Regions from separate parts of the Homo sapiens genome. Here regions 2 and 3 are each linked to region 1. The links come from fine-mapping of genetic effects on gene expression. A gene starts in region 1. Each other region holds a variant in brackets. All regions are shown on one strand. Distances are from middle to middle. Region 1 holds the start of CNTN4 (contactin 4). Region 2 overlaps CNTN4 (contactin 4). Region 3 overlaps CNTN4 (contactin 4).

Region 1 (10,541 bases):
GCCGTTTAAAGGAGACATTTGGTACAGTTGACCCTCATTATTCACAGATAACATATTTGTGAATTTGCCCACTTACTGAAATTTACTTATAACTCCAAAGTCAATACTTAAGGCACTTGAGTAGACACTTGTAGACGCACAGAGGTATTTGTAGATGCACAGAGAATAAAAATTGTAGTTGCCCAATGCACACATTCCCAGCTTAGATCAAACAAAGTGATGCTCTGTGTTCTTGTTTCAGCTCTCATATTCTAAAAAAGTCTCCTTTTTGCAGTATATTTAGTGCATGTTTCTCAAATTTTGGGTTTTTCTGTTGGTGATTTTGCTGCTTAAAATGGCCTCGAGCACAGTGCTGGAGTGCTGTCTAGCATTCCTAAGCAAAAGAAAGCTGTGATGTGCCTCACAGAGAAAATACATGTGTTAGATAAGTTTTGTTCAGGCAAGAATTACAGTGCTGCAGGCCATGAGTTCTATGTTAATGAATCAACAGTATATATTAAAGAAGGTATCTTTATCAGTTGATGAAAATCTTGTTACCAGAGGCTGTCAGGAACATAACCCTTTATTGTCTCCAGTGTTTGCAGTGACTTTATAGAACATAATTACTGAGGACATCAGAAATCAACTATAAATACTTTTGCAACTAATAGACCTTTGGAACAATTATTTTTGGATTTTGTATAAAGAATCCAAAAAAATCTGGAAAACGTGTGGCTAAGAAAACAGTTGATTGGTCCCTAATTCCACCTTATTATGTTTAAATTCAGTGGGTGTCTCACAGCCACGTTTATAAAGGAATCTTGGCTGGGGTGTCAGGTTTCTAGTTTACTTTGACTCTATCTGTCAGTCTGTGTCCAACCTTCATGGCAATTAACTGTGCTTTTGTGTGCTAATTATCATTATCCCAGTATGGGCCCATTATTAGTCCAATGTCCTTAGTTTAAAGCTTAAGTGTCAATCAGTCACCTAAAACAATTGCATAGAAGGAAGCTTTGCAAGGCTGGTTTGAAAGTCCTTAGCTGAGTTCTACTTTATTATACTCCAGTTCGAAACTGAACACAAAGCTCTTCTTGATACAATTGTTTATTTAAATACTGATTTATCTACTTAATTAAAGCAAACTTGAGTTTATATTTTAAAATCAGGGATGGGATAATTGCTACTTTATGCTTGAAGATCTATTCAGGTAGCTATACATTAAACAAGTAAAACCGTAATTATAAAACCTGCACATTTTTATCTGATTGAGTCGCTCCTGCCATTGAACGACCTTATTCAAGTCATTTAGAACAAAGAAAGGTGGCATATATGAGTTTTTTAAAATCCCACTGGATGCCAGGAGTAAGGAGAAAATAGCATCAAATCAGATGTGGTCAGAAAAGAGGTATTTCTTTTCCTGTGATGCTTTTCCTCTTTCCTCCTCTTACAGTAAATCCCCACTTATCAAATCTTCAGATGTGTAGAGAAGGAATAAGGCAGGGGTAATGGGGGAGTGGGACAGAGAGATGCCCTTTCTGGAGTTTGCACAACGGTTGCATGCTGAGTAAAACCTGATGATGTATTCCATTCATGTCTCCAAAAAGTCAAAAGCGGTTTCAGCGTTGATTTCCCTTAAGAGTTATCAGTCCTCATTCAATTGGTTTAATGAGTGTAAGAGGTGACCTTGTGTCTATGTAGATACTCCCATATTAAAAGACCTGGATGTAAAACTTCACATATGTGTAAATAGTTATTTTGGAGGGTGTTGTGAGGGTTATTGCAGCTCTCTGCTCAGCTGCTACTCAGGCTAAACGGGCAGGAGAAATTTTCCACTGTGTTAGAATGATGATTATTTGCAAATTACATGAGCACCAGTAATTCATTCATGCAATGATACAGAGCTGGGTCTCAGTGCAGTGGTATTGAACTTGCTGCTGGGGGCGTTAATTGATTCGTTTGGAACATTCCCCTCCAGAGAATCCCAATCACAGGTCCCCTGATCAAGAAACGGACACGCAGTCGGGGTCCTGGATATGTAGAGACACACGTGTGAGGCTGTTGTCATCAAAATAAACCATTTCTGTCCCCTGACAGGGGTTGAGTCTATTAGGAACACTCCCCAATCCTGGGAGCTTCCGCAAGAGGCTTTCTATCTTGGCAGAGGTGGCAGCTGAGCATCGCTTCTTTGCTGCAGGATGGAAAAAAGGGACTGGATTATTGGCTGCATTTTAAACTAGCTGCTGTTCTAGAGAAAATGTTGGGGAGGGACTGAACAAGCTTAGCACTGGATCAGTGTGGGGGTGTGTTGGTGAAAAGAAAAAATGCCTCCTCCTAACTTAACGTTTAACTGATATCCCCTCAACACGACCCAAATCTGTCTCTCCAGATACACAATGTCTGTTTTCCTAACTACATGGTGAACTGTGGAGCAAGTCTTGGTCATGTTTAGTTTGTTTCCCAGAATCTACTAGAAGACAATGCCTAGCATATAGCAGGCACAGAATAAGGGCCAAAGGGGAGAATGGAAACAAAATATGTACATTTGAAATTTAGAAACACAGTTAAGGGACTTTGCCTGAAATTGTCATAAAACTTTGAAAATTGCTTCAATGTATAGTCCCAGTGGGAGAATGTGACAGCATATTTTATTCTTTGTTCTTTTCTGAAATTCTGTGTCCAGTCTAAAACACGACATTTCCCTTTAATGTGTTAGGAGTATGCATGACTACACAGGAATATTTTCTGGAGAACTTCTGGTGAAGCATATTTTGATAAACAGTCTTACTAAAAGTTATATATATGTACTTTTAATTGACTAGTTGCAGAGAAATAATCAATGTAAAAAAAAATCATACATAGTACAGGTAGTAAAAGTCACAGTTCCGGCAGAAGCACAAAAGCCTTCAAAGTGAGTGGGAACCTGGGAACCATTGATCCTCAGTGGCTGTTTACCATGGAAAACACCTGCATCACCAACATTCCAGTTTTGCAAAAGTACCTCTATTACAGACACATACCAGGCAAGGAGGGAGGAAAAAGCCTGAAAATTTCTCTCCAAGTTTAAGTAATCAGGAAACTTTGGTGGGGAGGTTGGGGTGGGGTGGGGGCGGGGGGGTAACTTCTTTATTTAGCATTAATCTCAGCAATCATGAAAGTCATGGAATTTCAAGTGATGAAAAATTTGACCACAACAATACCTATCACTAGCCTGGTTTTGCCCACTTCTCGAACAGGAATTATAAAGATAATAATTAATTCTAAAAAGCAGAAGACAAAACAAACAAACCAAACCAACACTGAATGAACTAATAAGGCTGCTGCATATATATGTTGGAGTTGGATGTTTATTTGCTTACTGCAGTAGTTTAAAAATAGTTTTCCAGTTAACATCTTTTCCACATAGTGGAGATGTCAGGGTAGGTTTACATGATTGCGTAAATGGTCAGAAGTTGTTTATGTAGCTCTGAACTGCTGAGAGATGAGCAGGAAGACCTGGGTTCAGCAAAACCCTTGGGGCTTTTTCCCAGAGAGAGAAACAGAGGCTCCTCTCTGGGTTGCTGGAATGCTTTCCAGACGAATTCGACTGGGTTGGCTTTTCTCTGCCTGTCAAAGTCACTTTGCACAGTGCTGGTGAGGGGCTGGGGCATTGCTGCCAATCTCTACGGTTACCCCGAGGTGTGGAGTTGCGGCGAAGGGAGCCACTTCTGCAAGGAAACAGTAGATTCATAATGTAGAATGACCGTGGCAACGTCGTTCAAAGCACATTCTTTCGAATAACAAGGCTTTCGACATGCCCCACCCCCGCGCACAACACACCACAAATTGATCCTTGTACCTAATTTACAGCAACTGTTCCCTCTGACCTCCCCCCGCCCCCGCCCCACATTCCAACCTGAAAGCACTTTGCGTGGATGAGACTTCAGGTGTGTAACGCAGCCTGTCCAGCCAGTGTCCTCCGCCTAAGGACAGGCAGGTAAAAACCTACCAAAGCCCCCTCTTCTGGCCTAAGTTCAATGCCACCCGCCCACCCACATTCCCCGGTTCAGCAATTTTCAGCCCAGACGCAGAAGCATCTGTTTCCCTGGCCAGGGCGCCTTAACGATCCCCCGAATTCCGCGTCTCCCGGAGGCCAGAGGTTTGGGTACCCAGGAAGGTCGCGCCTCCTCGTGCCCCGATACTCGGGTTGTAAAGGGAGGAGACATCGCCTCGGCGCATCCCTGGCCGCTGAACAACGCAACCCCTACGTCCCCGCACGGGAATCCGGCTGATAATCTCCTCTTGCCTGAGAATCGGGCCAGGCGCCCTTTACTAATTTCGCGCGCTGGGGACCTGGGGCTGCCGCCTCTCGGCCGCGCGGGGCAGGTGCTGCGTCCCCAGCGCTCGCCTCCTCCGGCCGCGCACTGAGCATGCGCGGGCTCCGGGCCTCCGGCGCGTCTCCCCGTCCCCGCTCGTCTCCCGCCCGTTCCCACCCGCCCGCGCCTCTCCCCTTCCCCGAGCGTCTCCCCCGCCCCGCGGCTAAGGAGCCGGCAGCCCGAACTCCGGCGCGCCAGGTTTTTCCAGCCGCCGCGAGCGCCGGGAGGGAGGGCAGCGCCGCGCCAGACGGAGCCCGGGGTTCGACGCCAGGATTGGCTGCAAGTAGGGAGCTTTCGCCGCCGCCCCGGGCCCCTCGGACTGTGCCGGCGCCGCACCCGAGGCTCTCGCCAGCCCGGCGCCCCGGTGCTGAGGTAAGTGAGGCGGCAGCTGTGCGGGTCCGGCTCCTGCGTGGGCGCGCGATGCCCCGGGGACGCGGTCGCGGGTGTGGGGGGGAAAGGGCAGGGTCCGCGCGGGTTGCCCGAAGGACAGGGGCGCTTCCCGGGGCTCTGACTCCCGCGGGGCCGGGCAGCGTCTGCGGGGCCGTCCAGCTCAGAGCCCGGAAGCCCTGCAGGGTCGGGGAGCGGGAGCTGAACGCCTGAGCGCGGAGGACTCAGGGCCCCGACGACGCCACCGTCACCCCACAGCGACCCTTCTTCTCCTTCTCAGCCGGAAAATAAGTTTGTTGCGCTGCGAGGCAGCCACAAAACAAGGAACCGAGAGCCCGGAATGCTGCGGGAAGCCTTCAAGTCAGCTCCTCCGACTGGTTCGGGCTACTGCCCCCTCTCCGTGCGCCCTGGCCTCTGGCGCCGGGTTCCCGGCGGGGCTTTTCTTCTGACAGCCCAGTCACAGCCCGCAGCAGAGGGACGCGAACCTGGGGAGTGGAGGGACCTGGGACTAAAGGAACAGGAGCCCGTAGCCGTGGTGGAAGGAGCCGCGTGGAGACGGAGGCTGATGTCTGTGGCGCCCGCTGGGTGCCGGGCTGGCTGCTGAGCGCTGAGGCTGCGGCGGCGAGCGACAGGCCAGGTGCCTGCTCTTAGGGAAGGTACCTGGCTTCCCCAGTCTCTGCCGCGGGAGCCTGTTGGGTGGCATTCGTTTCCAGCAACTTCTGGGGGGTTTCCAGTTTCTTTCGAGAGGCAAGACAACCGCCCCGTCCCCTCCCCGGGCCCAGACGGCGGCGAACTGTGCGCCGGGCGCCCCACAGACCCCAATCCACTCACTCTCCTTCTGGAACGCGGGGCTCAAAATCTTCGTGCATTTTCTCTCTTGTGCTTCGTGTATATGTTTTACTATTTATGAAGGGTGTGGAGGTGAGGGTAGGAGGACGTGGGCTCCTGAATCCCTCTGAACCAGCCAGAGAGTCGGCTGCATGGAAACATTTCGCAGCGAAGCTCCTGCGAGGAGGCGGCTTCGCGCGTCGGGAAGATCAGGCGGTTGCTTGCTGGCCAGGGTCTGCAGATTCGGTGCGAAGAAGCTGGCGGAGGTTGTGTAGGGCGAGTCAGTGTGACTGAGCACCCTGGGTGTGTGGTCTGCGTGGAGGAGAGTGGGCCGGATCTTGAGGTGTGTTGGAGGTTTATTTGTAAGAGGAGTTCCTGAAAGGAATGTCGTGGAACTTTTTCTAGTTTTCCTGCTGGAATCAACATAGGGGCGGGCACATGTTTGTCAGAATAACAGTGGCATTTAACTGCATGGGAAGCTCTTTCAATTTTCTGTAGTGGGAGCTGGATAGTTCAAGGAGTAACTCCACATAACTGAGTCGTTTGGATACCCACACAAGATAATTTGGAACGCGCTTGTATTTTTTTGTTTTTTGAGATTTCTGGTTTATGTCCTTTAGAGAGTGGGGTAGGAGCGTAAAGACTGTATAGGTTGCCTATGAGCAGGTCCATACAATAGCGTTCCCAAGTCTGCCTAATAGCAAGTTTGTTCTCTCTTTCTCTCTCTCTACCCAAGTGGGTGAAAAAGAACAGTGTGTCATGAAGACAGGCACCTGGAGGTGATTTGGGTGGCATTCATGAGAAAATTCACGTTACCCGTAAGTTTATTCTTGCTATTTTTATCTTGATTTCTTTAAAGATTTTGTGGGAATATCTGCAGTGGGTCGCAGGAGTAGGTAAGATTGCTAAGGATCAAAAACAAGTTTCATGAGAATATTATTTTTGCTACCTTATAAAATAGCTATTGATTTGTTTGTTGAAGCTGGTTTCAACTGCTCTGTCTTGTTGAGGAGAGATGATGCTGATAAACGTCATTATTTTTCCATCTGAACCCTGGGAGGTAGCTGGCAAGGATGGAAAAACTGACCTTTTCAATTAAAGACTAAGAGTCTAAGAGAAGTGACTTGGATAAGGGTGCATGTCAGAGCCACATGTAAGTTTCAACAGAGGTAGATTTTCCTATTTGCAGTTTTTTAAACAACACTTTTCAGTTTCTTTGAGTTGTAAAACTTTTCAAGTCAATTGGGAGTCAATGCAGTACCTTTTTCCATGGTCATTTCATATTGGCAGGTAATTAAGAGTGATTAGAGAACAAACCTTTCAAATGATGTTGGATTTTTTATCATTCACTTATTTTACCTACTTCTCTCTCCTTTTTGTTCAAAAGTAGGTCTTCTGATTTCTTTTCCGATCTAAGCACTAAATCTTTTGGCTGCAGTTTTTCTTCTGAAATGTATACAGGGCATCCGTTCCTTCAATTTAGGTCTTAAAAAAATAAAGCTGCTCAGCAGAAAATTCCCATGCATGGTACTGACTTTTCTACAAGTTTGTCTGATCATGATTTTAACTTGTTGTTTCTTCTTTGTTATATTTGAGGACAGACATAATATGCATTAGCTTCAATCTCTCTTATCTTAAAAATTAATATTTTGTAAAAACTTGCTTTTATATTATTTTAGTTGAATAAGTCTATTTCATATGATAGGCAGGGGGAAGTCTCTACACACTGATTTTTTTTGTTCCTTTTTGTTCATTTTTCCCTGTAATGCTATGTTTTAAGCCTAGTGAAGGAGGCAAGGAGGCAGGATTTACTGCCTAGATTTATTGATCTTCATTATTATTATTATTTACTATCAGAAGAAATCTGACAACATATCAATAAAATTTATTTATAAACTGAAGACATGCTGTTATATGATACACTACTTATAAAACACACAAAGAAACAAAAAAGATGAATAAAGCAAAAATTATGAAATAGAAGGTCTCATGTTGCTGTTATGTATCCCGGTGGATCATTTTGTACAGCCCCTGGGGTGTGTAGCACACTTTAAAGATCACTGCTGGTTTGATATTTTTAAAATCTTTCTCTCCTTATCTCTGCTCTGCTGTTCATCATCTCTGATACTCTAGCCAGTTGTAAAACTGCTACACTTCTATATCTTCTGTAACAAATAGATTAAGCACACTTGTTTTCCTCTCATGGACTCATATGTGGATAGAATGAGGTGTAAAGGATGAATGTGTTTTGGAGATGTCATCTTAGATCTCCCAAAGTAGACATACAGGTGAATTTTAAAAAATGGAGTTTTAGTTTAAAGACTAAGTACCAATGGTCAGGAAGTGAAGAATCCAAGGAGTAAATGAGGGAGGATTGGAAGGACACTTTCCACATTGCAGTGTTGTGTGGAGGCTGGAAAGTTCATAAACCTTGAAGCAGATTAACCTGAATCTAAGTCTGGCACCATCATTTATTACATTTACAGTCCTGGGCAATGTAGTTCCTTAATTTCTGTGAGCCTTAGTTTCTTTAGGTATAAAATTGGGATAACATCTATTTCACGGCATCACGATAGGGATTAAACATGAGAGCATGAGTCAACATGGGTCAAGAGCTTGGCTCTTTTAGATTGGCTCTTTAGCAGATATAACAGATCCAAAAGGGATACTGCCTCAGATGTGAAATATATTTATTTCTCGGTTGTGTGAAGTCCCAGAATGGGTGATCATGGCAGTACTCCTTCAAAGTGTGATTCAGAGACCCAGCCTTCATCTGTTCTGTGCCCTTGCCGTCTTCAGCAGGGTCACTGTGCTTACTTGCATCAAGCCATTGGAAAGAGGAAGACTTGGGAGGATGTTAATTGCCCAGAACTGGAATGAGTGCATATTACTTTTCCTTGCATTGTGCTGGCCAGAACCCAGTTCTTTGTGGATGTACGTTACTATTAAGGAGGCTGGGAAATATAGTCTAGAAATGTTATCCAGGAAGTAGAAGAAATTGTTGGGGGAACAACTAGCATTCTCTGATGTTTTATTACTATATGTGATATTTCTTCCATGTTCAATAACTGTTACTTCCTTTTCTTCTCCTAACCCTTGCTTTTTTTTTTTTCTGGTAGAAAAACTGGAATGGATACAATAAATAATAATAGAAGCAGTTAATACATACATAATGCTTACTATTATTGAGATACTTTTTAAAGCACATTGCCCTACTTTGCCCTTCTAATATTATCTCTATTGTACAGATGAGGAAAACTAGGCATAGAGAAATTAAGTTATTTGTTCATCATAGCTAGTAAGTAGCAGAGCTGGGATCTGAACCAGGTTCTCTCACTCCAGAATTGATTTTTTAACAGCTTTTTTTTTTTTTGCTTTTGCCTCAATACTTTTCTTATTTAAGCCACTGGACCGCTTTTTACTTTTGCCTATATATAAAAAAGTTGCCAAGAGAATTTTTTAAAATACTAAAGTAGAAAAAAAGGATATAATCCAAAACATACTGGAATGGAATTAGATATGATACAGCTTTATCTTGAATACCTACCAGGATCAGGAGCAGATATTTAAAGTAACTCCCCCCACTTACACACCCTTCACCACTACAACTGCTCTTTCATTTGTGATAAACACATTTTCAGGGTCTGTGCCTTGAATTATAACCTTCCTCTGAAGATTCTATTGTGGGAGTCTTGCGCTACCACTTTCATGCTTCAGTATGTGAGGATAAATTCCTCTTCACTTCTCAGCAGAAACAAATATCTTCCCTGGCAGGTTTTTCAGCTAAAATAGCCTCTCCTAACTTTTGATCAAAGGTATTGCTCTTTATCAATATCCCCATCCTCCAAGAAAGGAAACCCTCTTCTTTTCCTATGAGCTTTGCAAAATTATTTTTTATTTATCTATTTATTTATCTTTATTTTCTATATGACTAAGGGGACTGTATATATATCCCAGGTACCGTCTAAAAGAAAATGGTCCCTCTTGTTCTCATCCTGTTGTCCCATTTCCATTAGAGAATCTGCCTCATCTTATGTTTCCTATGTATTTGTCTTTCATAAAAATGCCTGTTAGAGTTTTGGTTCCCAGTGGCTGCAGTGGAAATGTGTAGTGGTCAATAGTAAGCGTATACTTTTTGCTAAGATAGTTATTGTTTCAACATTAAAGAGTGATTTTTTTCCTCTTGTTCAGTATGTATTTGTTGCATCTTCACAATTAGGTAATGATATGTATCTTCTTACCATGTAGGTAGGCATAAATACTGTATACCTACCAGTCATTTCTTTCCCAGAAGCCCCTGTTCATTTCCTCTTTACTTTCCCTGAGCCTCACATCCTGAGAATTTTGCTTTTTTTTCTGAACTCCTCTTTCTTCCAATTTTTTCCACTTCTGTGCCATTTATGTCTACGTGTGTGTGTGTGTGTGTGTGTGTGTGCGTTTCAAGTCCCTTCTTATGATTTAATGGGGTTGGAGGGCTGGAGAGGTTTTCATGTGCTTACTGTCATGTTTTCAGCCAAATTCCACAGGGCCTTGTAACAGGCTAACATGAGCAGATAAGCTCTTAATTTTCAGTGACTTATTTTAACTTTTTACTTCTTGCTCATGTGTGGTAGTTCAGTACTCATAGAATAGATCCTGACTGAGTGGCTGTCCATGGGGTCATTCAGGGAATCAGGTTCCTTAGAGTTTTATGGCTTTGTTCATCTTTAAGTACCTAGAGTCCTCATCATTCAGTCAAGATACAGAGTGTGAGGAGATAAATAATCCAGAGAAGTCTTATTGGAGGTTGTTGTAGGCACAGCCTGGAAGTGGTTGTCATGACTTCTGCCCACATTCCTCTGGGGTGGACCTCAGTCACTTCGACATCCTTTGCTGCAAGGGAAGCTGAGAAGTGGTGTCTAGCTGAGTGCCTGGGGGAGAAGGGTGAAAGGAAAACAGGTTTGGTAAATAACTAGCCAGTCTTTGTCACAGGTTTCCAATGAAAGCATGTGAGAA
Region 2 (10,541 bases), 320 kb after region 1:
TCATAACATTTCCAGGGACAGGGATGTAATGGGTCATTTTATAAGAAAGAAGAAAATGTATTAAACGTACCACATTATTTTTAGTTCAATGGTAGGTGTAAGACAGAAAGTACGTTTGCTTGGTATACATTTCTGTGGGACCCAGTGTTTGGCTTTGGTCTGCTAATTTCCTTTGCCTTTTCCTATTTAAGTTTTTTTCTTTTATTCTTCTATTAATAATATGATTTCTATAAGTTTCAGAAACTTTCTAAACAATAAAGTACTCCATTTCTGCACTATTGAGGTTGATGTTGGCCTTATTTATTCTCACCTTTTTTTTAAATTTGGTTTTTGATTTGGGATTTGGGGTGGCGCTGGCTTATTAGCGTTCTTGGTTGCAGCACATTTTCCTCCTTCAGTAACAACTCTAGAAGCTTAATAACCAAAGTTATAACCTACATTTGTTTTACTGTGCTCTAATACTCTTAACTACCGGGCAGATTTCAGTATAAGGTGAATTGGCATGAGAATTGTTTAGTCAATCAATAGCCATTTAATAAGCATTTGGTTACATGTTTTGGAATTTTTAAGAGACATATAAGATACTAGTGTGCCATGTTCTCACAGAGTGAACAATCTAGGGAAGCAAGAAATATATATATATATATGACAATGGTTTTAGGTAATAAAATAGAACTTTTAAAATAAGTTATAAGCTTATTTCCTCATAGTGATCATTCCATATCACAGGCCACCTGCATCCTCCATAAAAGAATAGGATTCTTAAATTTGATGTTTAATAGATTGTGTCACTTTACATTAGCCCTAATTAACTTTTTCCTAGTAATTTTGTGACCTTCAAAATTTACTTAATTTATCAATGCCATTAGTTTTTCATTTTTAAATTGGAGATAGTAGGAATATCTGCGTTATATAACATATGTAAAATGTAATTTAAATATACAGAAATGAAAATTGGGAGGTAATCTAACCATCTTGTGTTACATATGAGGAAATCAACACACTGAAGTAGGAGGCTTCCCCAAAATGGAATATTGAGCTTCATTAGTGGATATTACATTTGTTGACTCTTCATGTTTCCTCATTGGAGTTTCCAGATGCCACTCTTGCTTCTGAAAATCGTGTATGACTTGTGATGTAACAAAAATCAGAGGGCTTTCCAGTGTCGCAACTTTCTTTTTTTTAGGACGGAGTCTCTGTCTGTCGCCCAGGCTGGAGTGCAGTGGTGTGATCTCAGCTCACTGCAAGCTCTGCCTCTCGGGTTCCCGCCATTCTCCTGCCTCAGCCTCCCGAGTAGCTGGGACTACAGGCGCCTGCAACCTCGCCCGGCTAATTTTTTTGTATTTTTAGTAGAGACGGGGTTTCACCATGTTAGCCAGGATGGCCTCGAGCTCCTGACCTTGTGATCCACCTGCCTCAGCCTCCCAAAGTGCTGGGATTACACGCGTGAGCCACCGCGCCCGGCCCAGTGTCGCAACTTTCTATGGTATAAGAGTTACTTTGTTTAGCAGAAGTCTCACAGTTTGAGAATTAACCTTCTCAGTGGAGAGCTGGCAGACTGGTTATAAATAAGGGCTTCAGCTCCCTTAGTGTGGGACATGCTGCCCGCTCCCTTCAGGTACTTATCTGTCCTGGACCAGACAGAAGCACATCTGCTTTTCATTTAGCTTACTTCCATTTCTCCACTTCCTCTCTTTTGTCAGTGTTAAAGCTTAAAATGATGAAACAATCCAGCAGTTATCCAACTACAGATAAATAACTGCTGGACTGTATCATCGTAGACAGTTGGTGAAAAATTCTAGACCAGAATCCAGTCCCTTCAGTCTTGTATTCTTTCTAATGTATTGAGAACAAGACAGGAACATTGATTACCTATTTTTAGCTGGTTTCAAAAACAGTAACCTCAATTCCACAATCAAGATTTGGATTCAGAAATACTGAGTTTGCACTGAGCTCTTTCCTGCTTCACTTTGGGGTCATGAGAAAGGCTGTGAATTTCTGCTTCATTCCGATTCCCTCATTTTAATAACCTGCCAGGAGACCTCTAGGGGAGTGATTGTAATAAACTAGCTAATAAAATGAGATTAGAACCTTCAAAACTAAACATCCTCTTATGATACAATCCAGCAATCACACTCCTTGAGATTTACCCGAAGGAGGTGAAAACTTATGTTTACATAAAGACCTGCACACTGATGTTTCTAGCAGCTTTATTCACAATTGCCAAAACTTGGAAGCAACCAAGATGTCCTTCAGTAGATGAATGGTTAAGTAAACTGTGGTACACCTAGAGAATGGAATAATATTTGGCACTAAAAAGAAATGAGCTATCAAGCCATGAAAAGACATAGAAGAAACTTAAATGTGTATTACTAAGTGAAAAAGCCAATCTGGGAAAAAAGCTATATACTTTATTATTCCAACTATATGACATTCTGGAAAAGGTAGAATGACTATGGGAAGAGTAAAAAGATCCGTGGTTGCCAGGGATTTGGGGTGATGGAGAGATTAATAGAGCACAGAGGATTTTTACGGCAGTGAAACTAATCTATATGATACTATAATGATAGATACAGATACATGTTATTACAAATTTTTCCAAAACCATAGAGTGTAAAACATAAGAGTAAACCCTAATGTAAACTCCGGACTCTGGGTGATAATGATATGTCAATGTGGGTTCACTGATGATAATAAATATACCGCTGGTGAGGTATATTGATAGTTCAGAGAGGCTGTGTGTATAGGAGGGCAGGCATATATGGAAAATCTCTGCACCTTCCCCTCAATTTTGCTGTGAACCTAAAGCTGCCTAGAAAAAATAAAGTCTGTTAAAAAATCACCACAGAGGCAAAATGTGAGATTAGAACAACCTCTTCAAAATAATACACAGAAAGTATTTACAAATGCTAACTAAGACATAGGGTTCAAAACGTAAAACTGCTCACAGCCCAGGTACTAAAATTAGATCAATCTAATCATTAGATACTCAATCATTAGATACAATAGAATTTGCCCCAGTAGCAAATGTTTACTTTTGATTCTGTTATACACTACTTAACATGGTCCAGTGTCAGCATAAGGCTGTAATTTGGCGATTGCATTTCTTTATTTAATAACTGCTGATAAAGCTGAAATAAAGAATCAGTAAAAAGGTTTCACTTTTGTAAAGCACATCCAGGGTTTATAGGAAAGGAAATATTTCAGCATTTCTGATATATAAAAGAACAAAGGTGTTATATTAAGAAAAAATAATACATAAAACAATATCAGGGACATTGAATTGATGAAAGTAATCAGTAACATTTTAAATCCATGTTGGCTTGCATTGTGAAAGAAGGGAATAATTTACAGTTCATGATATTTGTATTTAGATGTTTGTATTTTTATTGTGTTTAGAGAATCCCAGGAAAGGAAAGAATCCTACAACCCGTAGGATGAAAAAAGCTTTGGATCTCATGCCAGGACAAGGGCACTGATGCCCAAAAAGATAAAGGCCTTCCTCAGAATCTTATGGGAAAAGTCAAATTATTTAAAATTAGCTCCAGGGTTCATGAGTAAGATTAATTGGTAGAAGTTAAATGGCTATATGGTTCACGTTTAAAAATAATTTCTAAAAATTGGATACCCCTTATGAGAGAAAATATAAGTGGCTTTGAGTAATAGTTTATATTCCAATTATTGCAAGTAATCAATCATATACCAGGTAATTTCCTGACATGAGTTACATACCAAAAATTATATTGGATGAAAAGCTCGAATGAATATAGGTAACATTCCACTCTAATGTAGCTTTCTGTATCTTAGAACATTCAACTTTATTAAGACTTTATAGTTTTTAGGAATAGAGTTAATAAAGAACTTGGAATCTTCTATCAAGAAATAAAGAGGTGGGAGTGGGGAGATCTACCTCTGGAGATTCTCATGTGTTCAGGATATATTCAACGTTTATTTGTTCCTAGGCAGGGTACAGAATAAACTGATACCCGTAAGTCCATTCTAGCCCAATGTTTCAAAAAATGCTGGCATTTTAGTGAAATGTAATATGGATAACATAAGGTAACATTGCGAATAGTGAAGTCTGCAACTAAAAGATAAAGCATTTAAATGTCAAATAGCATTGTGTAAATAAATCTAAAATGAAATTTTCAACCAGTTTTTAAAACTTACTTCCACTAACAAACATAACATAGTGTCATGCAGAAGATGATGAGGAAGCAAAGAATATGTTAAGGAAACCTGTAGAAAACCAAATGCCTTCTTGTATTAAATGAGTTTACCATGTCTTTCAAGGAATAATCATGTTTATACAAATGTGTGTGGTTTCCAGGACCCATTTTTCTTTTCCTTCCCTATACATGCAAACATATACAAATATATCAGCTCACATACTTATTTCCCTGTGGTTTCAGACTATTAAATGTTTATAATTACTCTGCTTGATGACTGTAATTTTTAGTTACAGATCGAATTGTCCCAGGTGTGGATGCTGCCAAAAGCCACGGTCATTGGCAACATGACATCTGGAAGACAGTCTGGCATGTAGAGTCAGGGAATTTGCTAGAAGTTGTTCCTCATACAGTGCAATAGTACAAGCAAGCATTGTGACTCCCTGCAGCTGGTGCTGTCAGTGCCCTATCCATATGCCTCAGACCTTTAATTGTGTTTCTGAGGAATGCTTCTAACTCCTAGTATCTGCAGGTTTGTTCCTCAGCACTTTTTCCAAAAACTGTGGGAAATTGCACTGCTTATATGCACAAGTGAGCTTCATATAAGGAGAAAGAAAACCCTCTAGGAATAGTTCTTAATTAATGACTCTCAAGAGGTGCTGTATAAATACCAACTTCTCTCACCTCTCTGGTGGGATAACTCTGTGAGGTGTGCTTTATGTCATGTCAGAGTTTCTCTGCAGGATTGCCTGCTATATTCACTGCTTGAATAGAAAATTCTTTTTTTTTTTTCCTTTGAGACAGAGTCTCACTCTGTCCCCCAGGCTGGAGTCCAGTGGCACAATCTCGGGTCACTGCAACCTCTGCCTCCCAGGTTCAAGCAATTCTTGGGCCTCAGTCTACCGAGTAGCTGGGACTACAGACATGCACTACCATGCCCACCTATTTTTTGTATTTTTAGTAGAGACACGGATTCACCATGTTGGCCAGACTGGTCTTGAACTCCTGGCCTCAAGTAATCTGCCTGCCTCTGCCTCCCAAAGTGCATTGCAGCTGTGGGCCACCGCGCCTGGCCAAATGTTCTTTACTGGACGCCTTCAATCCCCTTGTCATTTCCTCATTTTCTTTCTGGCCTGCACTTCTTAAACTAGTTACACTGTAATACTTGTTTTAGAGTCTGCTTCTGTGATTAACGTTTCTGATCAGTAAAATGGCATAGCACTGCTTACCTCAAGAGATGGCCGTATTTTGTCAGAGAAAGAATGTACTTCACGTTTTGCCTAATAAAGTAAACGTTCAGGACCCAGCAGTTGCATTTTAAATGATCCCAGTGTTTGCCCTGTTTTTGAAGTACACATGTGCTTCTGGGAAAACTCAAACTAAGACACACCCCACACCCAACTGGCAAACACATGCCCTGTTGAAAGAGTCTGCAGAAGAGTCCTTGCTTCAGGTACATTTTTCACATTCCAGTCCCAGTTTAGCCCTCCCCCATCACCTTAATGACCACC[A/G]TTGCATAACAAGCAATGCCTTCTTGTGAGGCATTAGAGGTGACTAGGAGTGAGCTTTAGGGTGGGTACCCTTCAGGGGGTTTCTTTTTTTTTTTTTTTCCTTGACTAGGAGTCTGGCTCTGTTGCCCAGGCTGGAGTGCAGTGGCGTGATCTCAGCTCAGTGCAACCTCTACTCACGGGTTCAAGCAATTTTCCTGCCTCAGCCTCCCGAGTAGCTGGGATTATAGGCACTTGCCACCATGCCCAGCTAATTTTTGTATTTTTAGTAGAGACATGGTTTCACCATGTTGGCCAGGCTGATCTCAAACTCCTGACTTCAAGTGATCTGCCCACCTTGGTCTTCCAAAGAGCTGGGATTACAGATGTTAGCCACCGCTCCCAGCCCCAGCCTTCATATTGTTTATCTTGATTTCTTTTTTCTTCTCTGTTGTAGTGGATAGCACCAGACAATCAGTAGTTGAAGCCCTTTTCACATCTTCACTGGGCATTCTATTAAATGACATATGTGTTCTCCCCAAACTCTAACATCTGTTCATTGAAAATAGGGCAAACACCAAGACCATTTGTAATACAATTGCTGACTATTGAATATTTACTTTGTTAGAAAAAATGCTAAGTACTTTACAATATTTCTCTGCAATAAAACTCATCTTTTGAGCTAACAATGCTATTCTCATTCTACTAAGGAGAAACTTTAGTCACAGAGAGATTAAATAATTTGCTCAACAACACACAAGGAAGTAAGAGTCTGGGAGAGAATTTGTACTTTTCCCTTCCTTTTAGATGTCATTCATAAAAAAAAAAAATTAGTGTACCTGATTTTGTACTCCTAGCCACTATTTAATCCTGCCTCTGTAATTAGCTTTTATGGATAAGTTTATCTTTCCGTACTCAGAAAATAAAATAGTAAAATAAAAAGGCAGCACAAGGTGTCACTAAGTGGCTTTCACCAGAGGTGAAGTTGTACAGAATTAGAGAGGGGTTTTAACCACATCTAGAGCACTGCCCATAGAGGAATGCAGACCAATTTCTGAAGTCAATTTGTGTTATCCCCTGCTCCTTAACCTGGGTTCCAATACCAGTTACATTTAAGGAACTCTCCTTCCCCCTCTTTCCAGACATTTCCATGGTAGAAACACAGTAGTAGTTCAGGAGTTAGGAGACCTGGGCTTTAGAGCTTTTTATAAAATGGGATGTCTGAATTTGATAGTGTGCAATGTTCCTTCCAACTCCAAACAGATGTTGTCATTTTCACAGCCTCTAGAAGCCACAGGTACCTTCTCAATTAGAAGTTCTAAATGATTTGTAATAGTGAGCACTATTTGGATTCCTGACAGCCTATATCAGGAAAATAAGCAAAGTTTTGGATCAAGTGCTTATATCTAAAGCCATTGCTTTATAAGCTGGTCTTCACTGCCAATTCCTTCTTCCCTATAGATTGTTGGTATTTCTGGTCTGGATGGGTTACAAGAATTTATTTTATTGATTTCCTGAATCTCTGTACATCCTTAAAATAATTCAGAATTGGAAAGAAATACATTTAGCTCTTTGTCACATAGTGTAGAGATCTTTTGACATAAAGAGAGAGCTGCTGATATTCTGTTTCCCCTAATGCCTGAGTGTGGCATGGTTTCAAAGGGTTGCTTTATCACATGTAGACATGGAGGGACCATCAGGTAATGAGATATAACATTTCCTGGAAATTAATTAGTGGTGTGTTGTCCAGGAACTAAATTTCTTTTACTCCTGTTTGCCACCTGTCCTGGATGTCTAGTGCCGAATTTGAATTTCCATGCCAAACTGAAAAAGCAGCATTGGCTTTAGTTGCCCTCTTTTTCACATTAACTTAGGGTTTTAGCATGTAAAGCGACTGCGTTGTTTTAGTGGAATGAACTTAGAATGAACTTCAACAGTGATGAACTGATAACCAATTAAATAAATAATTGATTCATCTGAGAACAGTCTGACTCCTAGAAGTGGTGTTCCTAAGAAGCTTTTGTGTAACTGCCCTCTGGAAAGCCTCACAAGTTGTTGCCTTTCTTTCTTTATTTTTTCCAAATGGACAATTTTTGACAAACAAACTTCTAAGAGCAGTCAAGTGTCAAATACAAAGTTATGGCTGGTGCAGCTGCCTTTGGGATCACACGCTCCATTTATTCATTATAGAAAGCTCAGATGCACAAACATGTGGTGCCATTTTGTGTACCTGTCAGTTTAGTGCGTTTAATGAACATTGATCATGCTCATCCAGACACACTTCTCGATGCTGCAAGCAGGAAGTCAGTGGTTTCTGAAAGACAGGGTGAAAACTTGTTTTTTTTTTTTTTTTCAAATGTGCCTCTGTGGAATCCTTTTTGCCCAAAATAGATGCATTAATAAACATGACTAAAATGTACCTTAAATTCACTACAAAAGAGAAAAGATGTTGATGAAAAATTTGCTCTGGTTTTGCTAATATTAAGTCCAGTATTTGTCTACTTAAAGTAGAAGTTTTGATGACTTGGATAATCATTAGATTGCTATCTAGCTATTTGTAGTTTTGTAGCATCATCTGTTCCAAAACTGATTTTTTGCTCTCTTTTAATACCCTGTTAATTACAAAACCTCCTACTGGGTAGTTTTACCATACATAAATTCTGTCAAGTACTGCTGAATTAATTGGTGCCGAACATCGTTCCGGTCTATGGTGGGAGTAATAGTTCTTATTTTCTTGCCTTTTAATGTTTGGACACAGGAAAAGGAATATCACACACCAGGGCCTGCTGTGGGGTGGAGGGAGGGGGTTTTTTTTGATTAGGCAACATACCTAATGTAAATGACGAGTTAATGGGTGTAGCACACCAACATGGCTGTCAAAATTCCTTTCAAAATTCTCATAAAAGAGGTAGTTTAGCTTCTTTTTTTAAATTGTATTATACTTTGAGTTCTAGGGTACATGTGCACAACGTGCAGGGTTGTTACATACGTATACATCTGCCATGTTGGTGTGCTACACCCATTAACTCGTCATTTACATTAGGTATGTTTCCTAATGCTATCCCTCCCCCCTCCCTCCACCCTACAGCAGGCCCTGGTGTGTGATGTTCCTTTTCCTGTGTCCAACTGTTCTCACTGTTCAATTCCCACCTATGAGTGAGAACATGTGATGTTTGTTTTTTTGTCCTTGTGATAGTTTGCTGACAATGATGGTTTCCAGCTTCATCCATGTTCCTACAAAGGACATGAACTCATCCTTTTTTATGGCCGCATAGTATTCCATGGTATATATGTGCCACATTTTCTTAAGCCAGTCTATCATTGATGGAGATTTGGGTTGGTTCCAAGTCTTTGCTATTGTGAACAGTGCCGCACTAAACATATGTGTGCATGTATCTTTATAGCAGCATGATTTATAATCCTTTGGGTATATACCCAGTAATGGGATGACTGGATCAAATGGTATTTCTAGTTCTAGATCCTTGAGGAATGGCCACACTGTCTTCCACAATGGTTGAGCTAGTTTACAGTCCCACCAACAGTGTAAAAGTGTTCCTATTTCTCCACATCCTCTCCAGTACCTGTTGTTTCCTGACTCTTTAATGATCGCCATTCTAACTGGTGTGAGATGGCGTCTCATTGCGGTTTTGATTTGCATTTCTCTGATGGCCAGTGATGGTGAGCATTTTTTCATGTGTCTGTTGGCTGCATAAATGTCTTTCTTCTTTTGAGAAGTGTCTGTTCATATCCTTTGCCCACTTGTTGATGGGGTTGTTTGACTTATTCTTGTAAATTTGTTAGAGTTCTTTGTAGATTCTGGATATTACCCATTTGTCAGATGGGTAGATTGCAAAAATTTTCTCCCATTCTGTAGGTTGCCTGTTCACTCTGATGGTAGTTTCTTTTGCTGTGCAGAAGCTCTTTGGTTTAATTAGATCTCATTTGTCCATTTTGGCTTTTGTTGCCATTTCTTTTGGTATTTTAGACATGAAGTGCTTGCCCATTCCTATGTCCTGAATCGTATTGCCTAGGTTTTCTTCTAGGGTTCTTATGGTTTTAGATCTAACATTTAAGTCTTTAATCCATCTTGAATTAATTTTTGTATAAGGTGTAAGGAAGGGATCCAGTTTCAGCTTTCAACATATGGCTAGCCAGTTTTCCCAGCACCATTTATTAAATAGGGAATCCTTTCCCTATTTCTTGTTTTTGTCAGGTTTGTCAAAGATCAGATGGTTGTAGATGTGTGGTGTTATTTCTGAGGGCTCTGTTCTGTTCCATTGGTCTTCATCTCTGTTTTGGTACCAGTACCATGCTGTTTTGGTTACTGTAGCCTTGTAGTATAGTTTGAAGTCAGGTAGCGTGATGCCTCCAGCTTTGTTCTTTTGGTTTAGGATTGTCTTGGCAATGTGGGCTCTTTTTTGGTTCCATATGAACTTTAAAGTAGTTTTTTCCAAGTCTGTGAAGAAAGTCATTGGTAGCTTGATGGGGATGGCATTGAATCTATAAATTACCTTGGGCAGTATGGCCATTTTCACGATATTGACTCTTCCTATCCATGAGCATGGAATGTTCTTCCATTTCTGTCCTCTTTTATTTCATTGAGCAGTGCTTTGTAGTTCTCCTTGAAGAGCTCCTTCACAACCCTTGTGAGTTGGATTCCTAGGTATTTTATTCTCTTTGAAGCAATTGTGAATGGGAGTTCACTCATGATTTGGCTCTCTGTTTGTCTCTTATTGGTGTATAAGAATGCTAGTGATTTTTGCACATTGATTTTGTATCCTGAGACTTTGCTGAAGTTGCTTATCAGCTTAGGGAGATTTTGGGCTGAGACAATGGGATTTTCTAAATATACAATCATGTCTTCTGCAAGCAGGGGCAATTTGAC
Region 3 (10,541 bases), 890 kb after region 1:
CCTTAGGTTATTTATTTATTCATGTATTTACTCGGCCACTTAAGAAATATTTCTAGTATCCACTACACGCCATCCTGTGTACTAGACCCAGGAGGTTCAGTCGTAAGACAGACACCATCCCTTCCCTCAGAGATGCTACCATTCCATGTGATAAGACAACTAAGAAGCAAACAAATAAAATTTCCTGATTGAATTTAGTGGGAAGAAATAAAGTGGCTGCAGGAAAACAGGGAGACAGGGAGAACCACCGTAAACAGTGAGTTGGGAGAGATCTATCAGGAAAAGCTACCTCTACACTGAGATCCTGAAGGTGAGAAGGTGACAGCTATGTCCAGATACAGGGAAATGTGTTCAAAGCAAGCAGAAGAGCAAGTGCAAAGGCCCTGAAGTGGGAAGGATTTCAAATACTCTGGAATATGCAGAAGGCCAGTGTGACTAGAGTTCATCGAAGGGTAGAAAGATTAGAACAAAACAGTAAGCAAGAGAGGCTTTTTAAAAAGCTAGATCCATTAGGCTTCATAATAAGGCTCCAGCAAGAAATTTTTTCAGAATGCAATGGCAGAGCCAAGGATATAGCTTTAAGCCAGGAGAGTGATATAATCGGATTTAAATTTTAAAAGATCATCTGGCCACTGACTGAAGAATGGATTTGAGGGACAAGGGTAGAAATAGGCAGGCCAATTAGGAGGCTGTTTTGATAGACTAGGTGAGAAGGAGGGCGTGAAAGGGATGGAAAGATGTGAGCAGATCTGAAATAAAAGAGAAATTTAACAGACATTTACCTTGAGTGAGCTATCTGTGTACATTTTTTACTTCTCTGACAAGCCTCTAAGCCAAGCTGTGTGTCTTATTCATCTTTGTATTTTCCTACTTCTCTTCTGGTAGTCATGATGAAAACAGAGTTCTTCAAAATTCTTCCTCTTCCAGATTTTGCATCTGTCAACAAAAACATTTTCTTCCCTGCAGAAAGTAGATGTTTGTCTCTAATTGTGGGGCCTGAGGTTTGCCATCCACATTTGCTCTTCTGCCAAAGTCACGCTGAGTCGTGGAATATTTTAATTTTTTTTAAGTTCAGTTTTTACATCTCATTAAAAATGTGTTGGCTGACATATTTCAGAAATAAATATGCTTAATAATACCTCATTTAATTTAAGGCTCTCATTTAGAAAAAAACACTTTCAATGAAAAGACTTAAATTGATTAATCAAGGGATTTTTTCGTATTCCTTATTAGCAGTTATAAGACTAATGGTGATCTACCGTAAGCCTTCCCTTTGCCTAATGTGGTTAGAGCTACCAAAGAGAAATCGTTACAACCTGTCTAATATTTATAATGGCTATTCCAACTGACTGTTGAGACCATTTTAGCAAGAAAAGAATTAAAAACACTAAACAAGTCACATGTCTCAATTATGTTTATGTATATGTGGACAAATACCCTAAATAAAGATGAGGCTGTCATCTTTACTACAAATAATGTAGCAATGATTTATGGTTTGAACAATGACAGAATGACAGAACTAATTTGCAATAGGTCATATGAGATAAATTTCACCATTTTTGGTTCATTTACTTTGATTTCAGAATTACCATTTCTGAAGATGGAAACCTCAGAATCATCAACGTTACTAAATCAGACGCTGGGAGTTATACCTGTATAGCCACTAACCATTTTGGAACTGCTAGCAGTACTGGAAACTTGGTAGTGAAAGGTAATGGCTAACCCAAAGAATTCGAATATTTATATATGTGTCCTCGTGTCTAATAATGTAATCTACCGAAGTGGCATCATTCATATTAATATGTACAGATACCACTGTATTGCTAAATTAATTCATCACGGCAAACATGATATGATTAATAATTCTTAGAAAACTGCTGGTAATGAATATGATTGAAAGGCTATCTTATTTCAGAATCATCCAATACAATTTTGAGAATTATAGCCATTGTATCTCTTATAGTATTGTAACGAATGTTATCTTCAATCCTTTAATTAAATTTCTTTCAAGTCTCTATAGATTTGAAATTCATGTCTAGGAACACTATTCCAACAAATTAAAAACTCAAGACTCATGTACTATTTTTAGAAAACATTGTTTAAACAATGACATTGGTAATTTTTAAGATAGCTGTCCCATTTATTCAGAGATATGGATATGGCTTATTATACTAATAGAAGGCTTTGATCACCTCTATGCTTTGCCTTAGTCACCCAGCCAACCTTGTCAGTTTTAAGGAAATAAAATTCCCATATACCATAGCCTGGGTGCTTTATAATTTTTGTAGCAGAAAGTCCTTTATGCTCTTAGCAAAGCACGTGAGTGAAACTATTTCAATATTAGCTTCATGGCATGGGCTGGAAGTGCTAAGTAACCATTGAAAAGGAGAAAATCTTAATTTACATTTCATTTGCATTTCTTTCACTTTATATATTGCCCTGTCATAGGATTTTTGAGTTGAAGGGATCTTGACAATGATTTGACTGAAGAAGATGAGGCTCAGGTTGGTGGTTCTCTCAAGGTCACGAGTAGCAGGAGACCTGAACCCAGATCCTGATTCTGAGTTCTTCTTGGTCCTTTATGCTGCACCAGGAAACAGGAAGCCTTTCCTGTTTCTGAGTAATTTATACAGATGGGTCATATCATATTATTTCCTTCTTGCCCATTTGTAGTTCCCTTGGTGAAGACAGATGAAGGCAAATAAAAATATCAAAAAAAACAATTTGCCTTTAATTTAAAGAAGAAAGCTAAAAATTACCTAATTAAATATTTTAGGGTCATTAGAAGTTGGAAATGTACTACTCTTTTGGGAAGTCTTTTTATCATTAACATACTTGACCATGCAGATAGAAAATTGGAAGTCCAAGAGTTAGAACTAAATATATGTTTAGATTGATTACAACTATTTCAGTCTATTAATTACTTCCTCAGAGCACTAGCATCAGTGTATGACTGACTGCTTGTTCACTCTGTTTCATAGGCAAAGGAAAAAGAGGTTAGATAATATTTGTAAAGTGCAGTTCTAGCTAGAGGTTTTTGCTAATGTATGACTGTCTTGGCTAAAGGAAGTTTAGTAATCATTTAGGACCAAGAGAGATCTCAATGTTTCAGAGCTGGTTAGACACAGAGCTGGGATCTGTTATAGATTATTTGTGAATTATGGAGATATAAGAGAATATTAGGTTGACATCTTAAATCATAGTTAAAAGACAGGGATTCAAGTCAGAGTGATCTGGATTTGAGTCTCATTTCTACCACTTACCAGCTCTTAGACAAGACACTTAGCCTGTGTGGGGATAATAGCAGTGCCAGTCTCATGGAGTCGCTTTGATAACTGTGAAAATCCATGTTAAGTGATTAGTGTGGTGCCTGGCACCTAGGAAATATTAATAGTTGTTTTGTTTATAAACATGTTTTCATAAAATGAGGTTGTTCTGATGACTGTGGTAATCCATGCTAAGCGATTAACAGGGTGTCTGGCACCTAAGAAATATTAGTATTTGTTTTGTTGTTTATATATTTTCAAATGGATATGCGTGTATTCTAAATCCTGTTGAAATGAACATTTATGATATTTCCACCCCAATAGAATAATTAGCATAGAGAAGTGAGCCTATAATAAAGAAATGACTAAGAATATGAAAGATTCAAAACAGCTAAGCATAGAAACCATATATATGGTGTCTCATATTGTTAAAAGTAGGGTATTTTCACAGGTAGGAACAAGGTATGTTCTGTATTTTATTATCATCCTTCTTATAAGTATTGGCTTCCTTGGCTCTCCCAAGAGTTGGCAGAAAGGAGAGGCCTCTATTTCCCATCAGAGTTTGCATCCCAGTGATACCACAAGCCCCAGGACAAAACCGTTCCCAACCAACTGTGCAGATCCCTGCTGCTCATCTTACACTGAATCACGATGCAAAGCCTACAAATATATCAGGGATTAAATACGTTATAGTTGCCTCATTTTTGTGTGGTTATAAATATTGCTAAGATAGTAATTTCTACCTATTCTAACAAACAAAATAATTTATTTCTTGCCTTCTAGTAAAATGTGAACAAGTATTCACCCAAGTAAGTATAGGATATAGTTTTAGGCAGTTTACAGTTACAATTTTTTAAAATTTTATTAACTATTTGTTTCTTTCAAGGTATATTAGGAGAACACTAGTTTTCCACTAACGGCAATAATAACAACAATATTTCAAAATAAATTTACGTAAAGAAGTGAGTCGGTACAAAGAAAAGTACTAAATATGCATTGTTATAGGAGGATATGCAAAAAATCATGAAGATGGTATATGTGAATGTCTAAAACTAGGAAACATGACTTGAGGACAATTTCCAGGAGAGTTTTAGTGGACTTATAGATGCAGAATTAGTATGTCCTGCCTATGCTAGCCACATGATTCGCTGAAACATGCACAACACTTTAAAAACTGAAATTTCCTAATAGGTGAGAGAACGAGGAGGGACTGAGGTAGGAAGAGCCTGGCCCAGTACAAAAAGAGGAAGGCAGGGATGTGTAGGTATGAGCCATGAGGTTAAGGGATGATGTGCCCAGGTAGCCTGATTGACAGGTAGAATTCATGTGTTTCCAAGCAGAGTTATTTCTGGCAGTGGCTCCTGGTTCTGAGCTGCAGTTAGTTTCTCCACAGAGGTCCTCTGATTCTTATATTCTTCTTCTAGGTGAGGTGGGGGAAAAAAGTTTTATTTGGCCAATATGTTCTCAGGAGTTAACAATCCTGTTACTTTAGATAAGGTCAGAAGAGATTTGGGGGATCATTTATCTCCCAGTGTGGTTGGTTCTCACTCCCATTAGCATTAATGGGAAGTACGTGTGTCTGCAGAGGGGCCATCCACAGTGCGAGGTCTCCAAGAAGGACATTAACATAAACTGAGAAATATAATTTAAAAATCTGCCCCATAAAGCACGATATAGGCAGAGAAAACCATTCTGAACTCCGCATGAACTGTGCCAAGTCCTGAATCCCACATCAAAATGCTTGAGCCCTGCACCTTTAGTGCAAGTGTAACAGCTTAGCCCGAAATATGACTGAGCGCTGTATTTTAATTCAATTTTGAGATCTACAAAGGGACTAATTTATCAGAGAAGGTGTTCTGTAACCTTAAAATGTGCTTGTATTCTTTCCGATTTCCTCATGTGTCTGGGATTAAAACACCGTGAAGGTCGGGCGTCAGAACATATCTTTTCTAACCTTTTTACAATAGTTCTATCATTAACCATGCTTTCAAAATCCAATTCTCTTTCTCCCTACCCTTGCCCCCATGTTTCGGAGAGAGGCTGAAGATAGTGTCAAACACAGGGTCAGCAGGTAGGGGAGGAGAGGGAGGTGGCACATCTATTCCACCAGATACAGGAGGTTTAGAATAAACCTCTGACAAGCAATCATCACATGAATAAATATTCAGATTCTGCATGAGCAGGCTCCCAAACTGCAGAATTCTGACAGGTGCCCAGGGGGCTCTTGATTATCATCCCATCATCTGAATTCCTAAATTTTACTGGTTTTGTTTTTCAGGCTAGTTATAATATACTTGGGATTTGGTTTGCTGTTTCATTTTAAGCAAGAACAGTTCTTAAGTCAAACCCTCAAATACTCACAGAAAGCATAATGTTAGACCTTTAAACAAAAATGTGCTTTTGTGATCATTGACATCATTAAGAACTCTACAGAGGGCAGGGTACATTTATATGCAATATTGTACTTACTAAATCATGTTTATCTCTACAGCAGAGTTAAAGGGGTGGTGGTGGGTGGGGATTTTGCATGACA[C/T]AGTGCCTCTGCTATACAGGTTTCATATGACAGATATTTTTAAGTAGCAGTCCTAGAGAAGAGCAATTTAGAGTATTTGTTTGGATGTAGTTCAACAAGATAACTATGTTAATAGCAACCCTCACTCCTATTGATTATCTCCAGGACTCAAAATGTAGGGCAGTATGCTGTGGATGCTGTTAACATAGTCATCGTGCTGAACTACATCCAAACTGACCTTGAGCAATTTTGCAACTGGTGGTTCCAGACTATACTTTGGGAAACACTGTCCTACACCAAAGAACTTCGTACATGCATGCCACCTAGCAAGTGACAGTTCAGTAGAGTGCATATTAGAAGTGCAGATCTCCTGGGCCTCACTCCTACCCTAACAAATCTAACTCCTAGGGAGGAGGCCTGGAAAAACCTACATTTAAAATAAATACCCCAATTGATCCTTATACACATCAGAGTTTAGAACATTGCATTTTCAGGGGTTTCACACTATGCTCTGTGGGCCAAATCCATACCTGTTTTATATACCCCAGGGGCTAAGCATGGTTTTCACATGTTAGCTGGTTGAGAAAAAAACCAAAAGAACAATAATATTTTTGGGCATGAAACTTTTATGAAATTCATCTTTTAGTGTCCATAAATAAAGTTTTGTTGTCACATAGCCATGTCATTTTTTTACATATTAACTAAGGTTGCTCTTGCCTTACAACAGCAAAGTTGAGTAATTATGACAGAGACTGTGTAATTTTTTTTTTTTTTTGAGATGGAGTTTCCCTGTTGTTGCCCAGGCTAGAGTGCAATGGTGAGATCTCAGCTCACTGCAACCTTTGCCTCCCGGGCTCAAGCGATTCTCCTGCCTCAGTCTCCCTAGTAGCTGGGATTACAAGCAGATGCCACGACGCCCAGCTAATTTTTGTATTTTTTAGTAGAGACAGGGTTTCACCATGTTGGTCAAGGCTGGTTTCGAACTCCTGACCTCAGATGATCTGCCCGCCTCGGCCTCCCAAAGTGTTGGGATTACAGGCATGAGCCACTGCGCCCCCCGAGACTGTGTAATATATAAGTACCTATATAATATCCTCAACTTTGCCACTTCTGCAAAACCTTAAATATTTACTAGTAAGTCCTTCACAGAAAAGAAAAATACTTATCCTCTCTTTGATAACTTTTTCTCTTCCTCAGATCTTCAAAATTCTGTCCAAGGTATAGTCTGGCCAAGCTATACACAACTTTTCTTGTACCCCTGCTGATCTTGCATGCTGGAAATTTCCACATGTCCTTGAGTCTGATTATTAGCTGGAAGTGGTAGGGAGTTTTCTTTCCCAGGACCTTAGCCTCACCCCAGTATCCAAACAGTTGACTTTAGAACTTGGATACGAGTTGAAAATCCAGAGGAGAGATAATAAATCATTGATTGAGAGGGAGGAGGAAAATTACTTGGCAGACACTGGAACAATAATTCAATTTGATTCTCCAGCATGTGGGGAGGATTCACACAGCTGGAACCAGAATAGTAAGCTAAGAAGACCCTAAAGTAAGAAGCACATGACCTGGTGTTTTTTTAAAACACTTCTCTCTTCCTAAACCTCCCACCGTCACCAGCCTAAATCAGCAGAACTGTTCCACCTTTACCTCATAATTCTCAGACTGCATGTTCTTCCTCTAATAGCAATTTTTTTTTATTTTGAAATTGACTATATAAAGTTTTACCCTAATTCTGTCTGGATTTTAAAAGAGTTCTTTTGGCTTTTCTGTTTATTTAAATGTCTAAATTCAGTGCATAGAATTACTTTTATAATAAGAAAAAATAAATTTATACTTTAAGTAGCTTTAATAGAAAAGAAGTCTTTAGTGGAAATTGACTAAGATCACAGATACACGTAACAAGAAATTATTTTGTATTTTCATTCTTCAACCCTACAAGCCGAAAAGGTTCCTGTGGTTTAGCTGAGCATTTAACGGATTCCTTTATTGCCAGAAAGAGTGCTCATTGTTCACCCCATAGAAAGTTTATTTATGTTTAAATCAACAGATTTTTTCATATATATATATATATATATGTGTGTATATATATATTTGTACCAGCACCAAAGAGTATCTACAGCATTACTATTGCGCACTATATAAAATTCTTCTGTTTTAACTGTAGGACATTGGGAAATATCAACCTTTCCATGCATAGCATAATAGACGCAATAAAGTAGAGTCTTTTCAGTTGGAACTTTATTTTGCAAATGAGTTTGAAGCAGCCCAATCTTCTATGTAAAACTGTTCAAGGCTTTATACAGATTTGACAGGGGATCAATCAGAAATCAGTAACATACAATGACGGTTGGCTGCTAACACACAACAAAAGCTTTTAACATTGGTCCCTTATAACTGAATACATTTCAACCCAATTAGATATCTTCCACTGGAACCAATTATTTCTGGGTGATAATTAAGGGTATTTCTAATAGGATTAACACAAATTGTGACCCTAGGCATCTAGAGTAGGAAGGAAAAGTTTGTCATTAGAAGTGCTAAATGCTAATTATGGTAGGTCCCTCAGTAGAAGAACATCTGGCCAGAACATTTCAATACTAGATCCTGTTAGATCTGAGATCTGTCACCCTGGAGTTGGTACCAGCTATGGTAGGAGAATCTTAAAAGAAGGGTAGGTAATTGTGCATCTTGTTCTTCCTGTGTTCACAAAGCGTGTGACATAACCTGGAAATCTGATGAAACAGGGTGTGATTATTTCCTCTGACATTCTTATGGACATGTGTGAGAGCCACGTAGATTGAGCAAATAACATGCCTTTGGCGATATCAATCATGAGTAGAATGATTCCCCTTTTGTCCAAATCTCTCTGTAAAAACCTTCTCTCCTTTTGTAATGCTGATTGCATACCATGACAGTCTGCCCTGACTCCAGCCTGCCCATCACTTCTCCATCCTTGGTCTAGAGGGAAGATGTAATTCCTTAACTGTTACATTTCTCTATGCCAACTCTGTCTTTCGTAGCAAAGCCTCTATGCTGAAGACAGGCCTCGTATTTTTGCTTTTGGCATAAAAGACACTCTGTGGGTCAAGAAGCTTGTGTGGTAACATCACCTCATTAATAATCAGGGAAAGGCAATGTAAGCATCTGTGTGGTGTGATTTTTTTACATATGAGACTGGCAAAAGAGAAACATCTAACAGTACCTTTTGTTGGTGACTATGTGAGGAAAATGGTACTCACACACTCTCAGTAGGGATAGAAATTGCAATAGATACTGTGGAGAGCAAGTAAAATTGAGAAAGTGCAATCTCCATGGCCCAGCAATTCCATTTTCTGGGCATTTAACCTAGTGGGATTCACACGTGTTCTGAGGCAGACTTGCAAAGGTGTTCCTTGTGTTGTTGTTTGTAATGAAAAGAAAATACAAGGAAATTAAAGAATAATACATATGGTATCATTTTATTTAATATATTGTATGATTAAATATAAAATTAGTAATATAAAATAATACCTTATAATGTTTGCATACAGAATACACATGCGGCATAAGCCCTAACTCAGTATTTGGAGGGAGGATGCCTGGAGTGAGATTATGTGAAAGGACTTTAGCTGTATTGGTAATATCTGTTTGGGTAAATTTTTAATATATATTCATGGGGGGAAAAAGGCTGGAGGTACATGAAAATGTGTTAAAGCCTTCTAATTCTGGAAGAGGGAATATGAGCACATATTGGTAAATTTTTGTTGTAGTTTTATATGTAAAATATTTCAAATTAAAAAGAATACCTCAGGTCAGAATCCTACATGGTCAGATATTGCAGGCAAAGCCATCCAGACAGGAGGTCTGTTTTTTCAGTTCTCTCTCAGATATTGTAGAAGAGACACCTTTTACCTGGTGATATTTAACCCATCCCATACAAATAATTTCTTTCTTGTAAGGAAAAAACTCTCCTATAAAATGAATTAATGAATTCTTTTGTAATGAATATTTACTAATCAGAATAAACAAAACAAACAAACAAAAAAGGCAAACAGAATATGACTCTTTGGCTTCATTATATGTGAAGCACATAATTAATTTCTTTTCCAGCAATTCAAAGAGACTTATGTTATACTGATTCAGTTTAATTGAACTTATTACCACAAGAAGATAATAAGAAATATATTGAAGCTATCCATCTGGCTTGCATTGAAAACCTCACATGTTTCATTCTTCATGACTGTCATAGGCCATACTAATTGCCTCATTTCAGCTGTTTTATAATCAGTATGATTTAGCTATGAATGCGATAAAATTCTTACTCCAGAGGAAGTTGATATTAAAAAGCATAGATCTCTCACCTAGCTCTGCTACCACTTCTGAACTCATCCTCAGCATTATTACAGTTATATATTTTTGAAATACATAAATAAAAATCTATCTTTTTCTCGTGCATATCTTTTTAAAGTACATCTGTCATCTTCCTTCTGTCATCCTGCCATAGAGCTATTCCTTTACTGAAGGAAAGAAATGGTTTATGTTAAGCTTTTCAGTTCATTAAATGTTTAAATCTCAAGGTAGGTTGTTTTCAAACTATGGAGTCTTTAAAAATAATTTCCATAGCTGAAATGGAGTTTAAATGGCTAATTGTGTAATAAATAAAGAGAAAAGAAAACTTAGGCACTTTTACCTTCTGTCTCTAAACATCTGAACTTCCTGTGGCTTGAGAATGATGCTTTGTCATGTAGACTGGTTTTATGTGCACATGATCTCTCAGAAGAAGA

What was found. PIP is the estimated chance that this variant, and not a neighbour inherited with it, causes the effect. A credible set is the group of variants that fine-mapping cannot tell apart.
Region 2: its variant is the best candidate, but not a certain one, in a credible set for the expression of CNTN4 in thyroid (GTEx, PIP 0.68).
Region 3: its variant is the best candidate, but not a certain one, in a credible set for the expression of CNTN4 in atrial appendage (GTEx, PIP 0.78).

Annotation. Positions count from the first base shown.
Region 1 is chr3:2,094,276-2,104,816 of GRCh38, forward strand. It overlaps CNTN4 (contactin 4), which reads left to right and starts at 4,591. Exons shown (of 25, transcript NM_175607.3): 1 at 4,591-4,703; 2 at 6,283-6,364. It overlaps LOC124909338 (a long non-coding RNA gene), which reads right to left and starts at 3,980. Exons shown (of 2, transcript XR_007095785.1): 1 at 3,872-3,980; 2 at 3,306-3,683. RefSeq lists an enhancer at 547-1,154.
Region 2 is chr3:2,415,488-2,426,028 of GRCh38, forward strand. The region is part of intron 3 of CNTN4 (contactin 4); the gene reads left to right. Among named protein-coding and RNA genes, the nearest start is that of CNTN4-AS2, 280 kb to the left of the region's middle. RefSeq lists an enhancer at 3,344-3,513. The variant A/G (reference allele first, on the strand shown) is at 5,681.
Region 3 is chr3:2,986,762-2,997,302 of GRCh38, forward strand. It overlaps CNTN4 (contactin 4), which reads left to right. Exons shown (of 25, transcript NM_175607.3): 14 at 1,584-1,711. Among named protein-coding and RNA genes, the nearest start is that of CNTN4-AS1, 69 kb to the right of the region's middle. The variant C/T (reference allele first, on the strand shown) is at 5,800.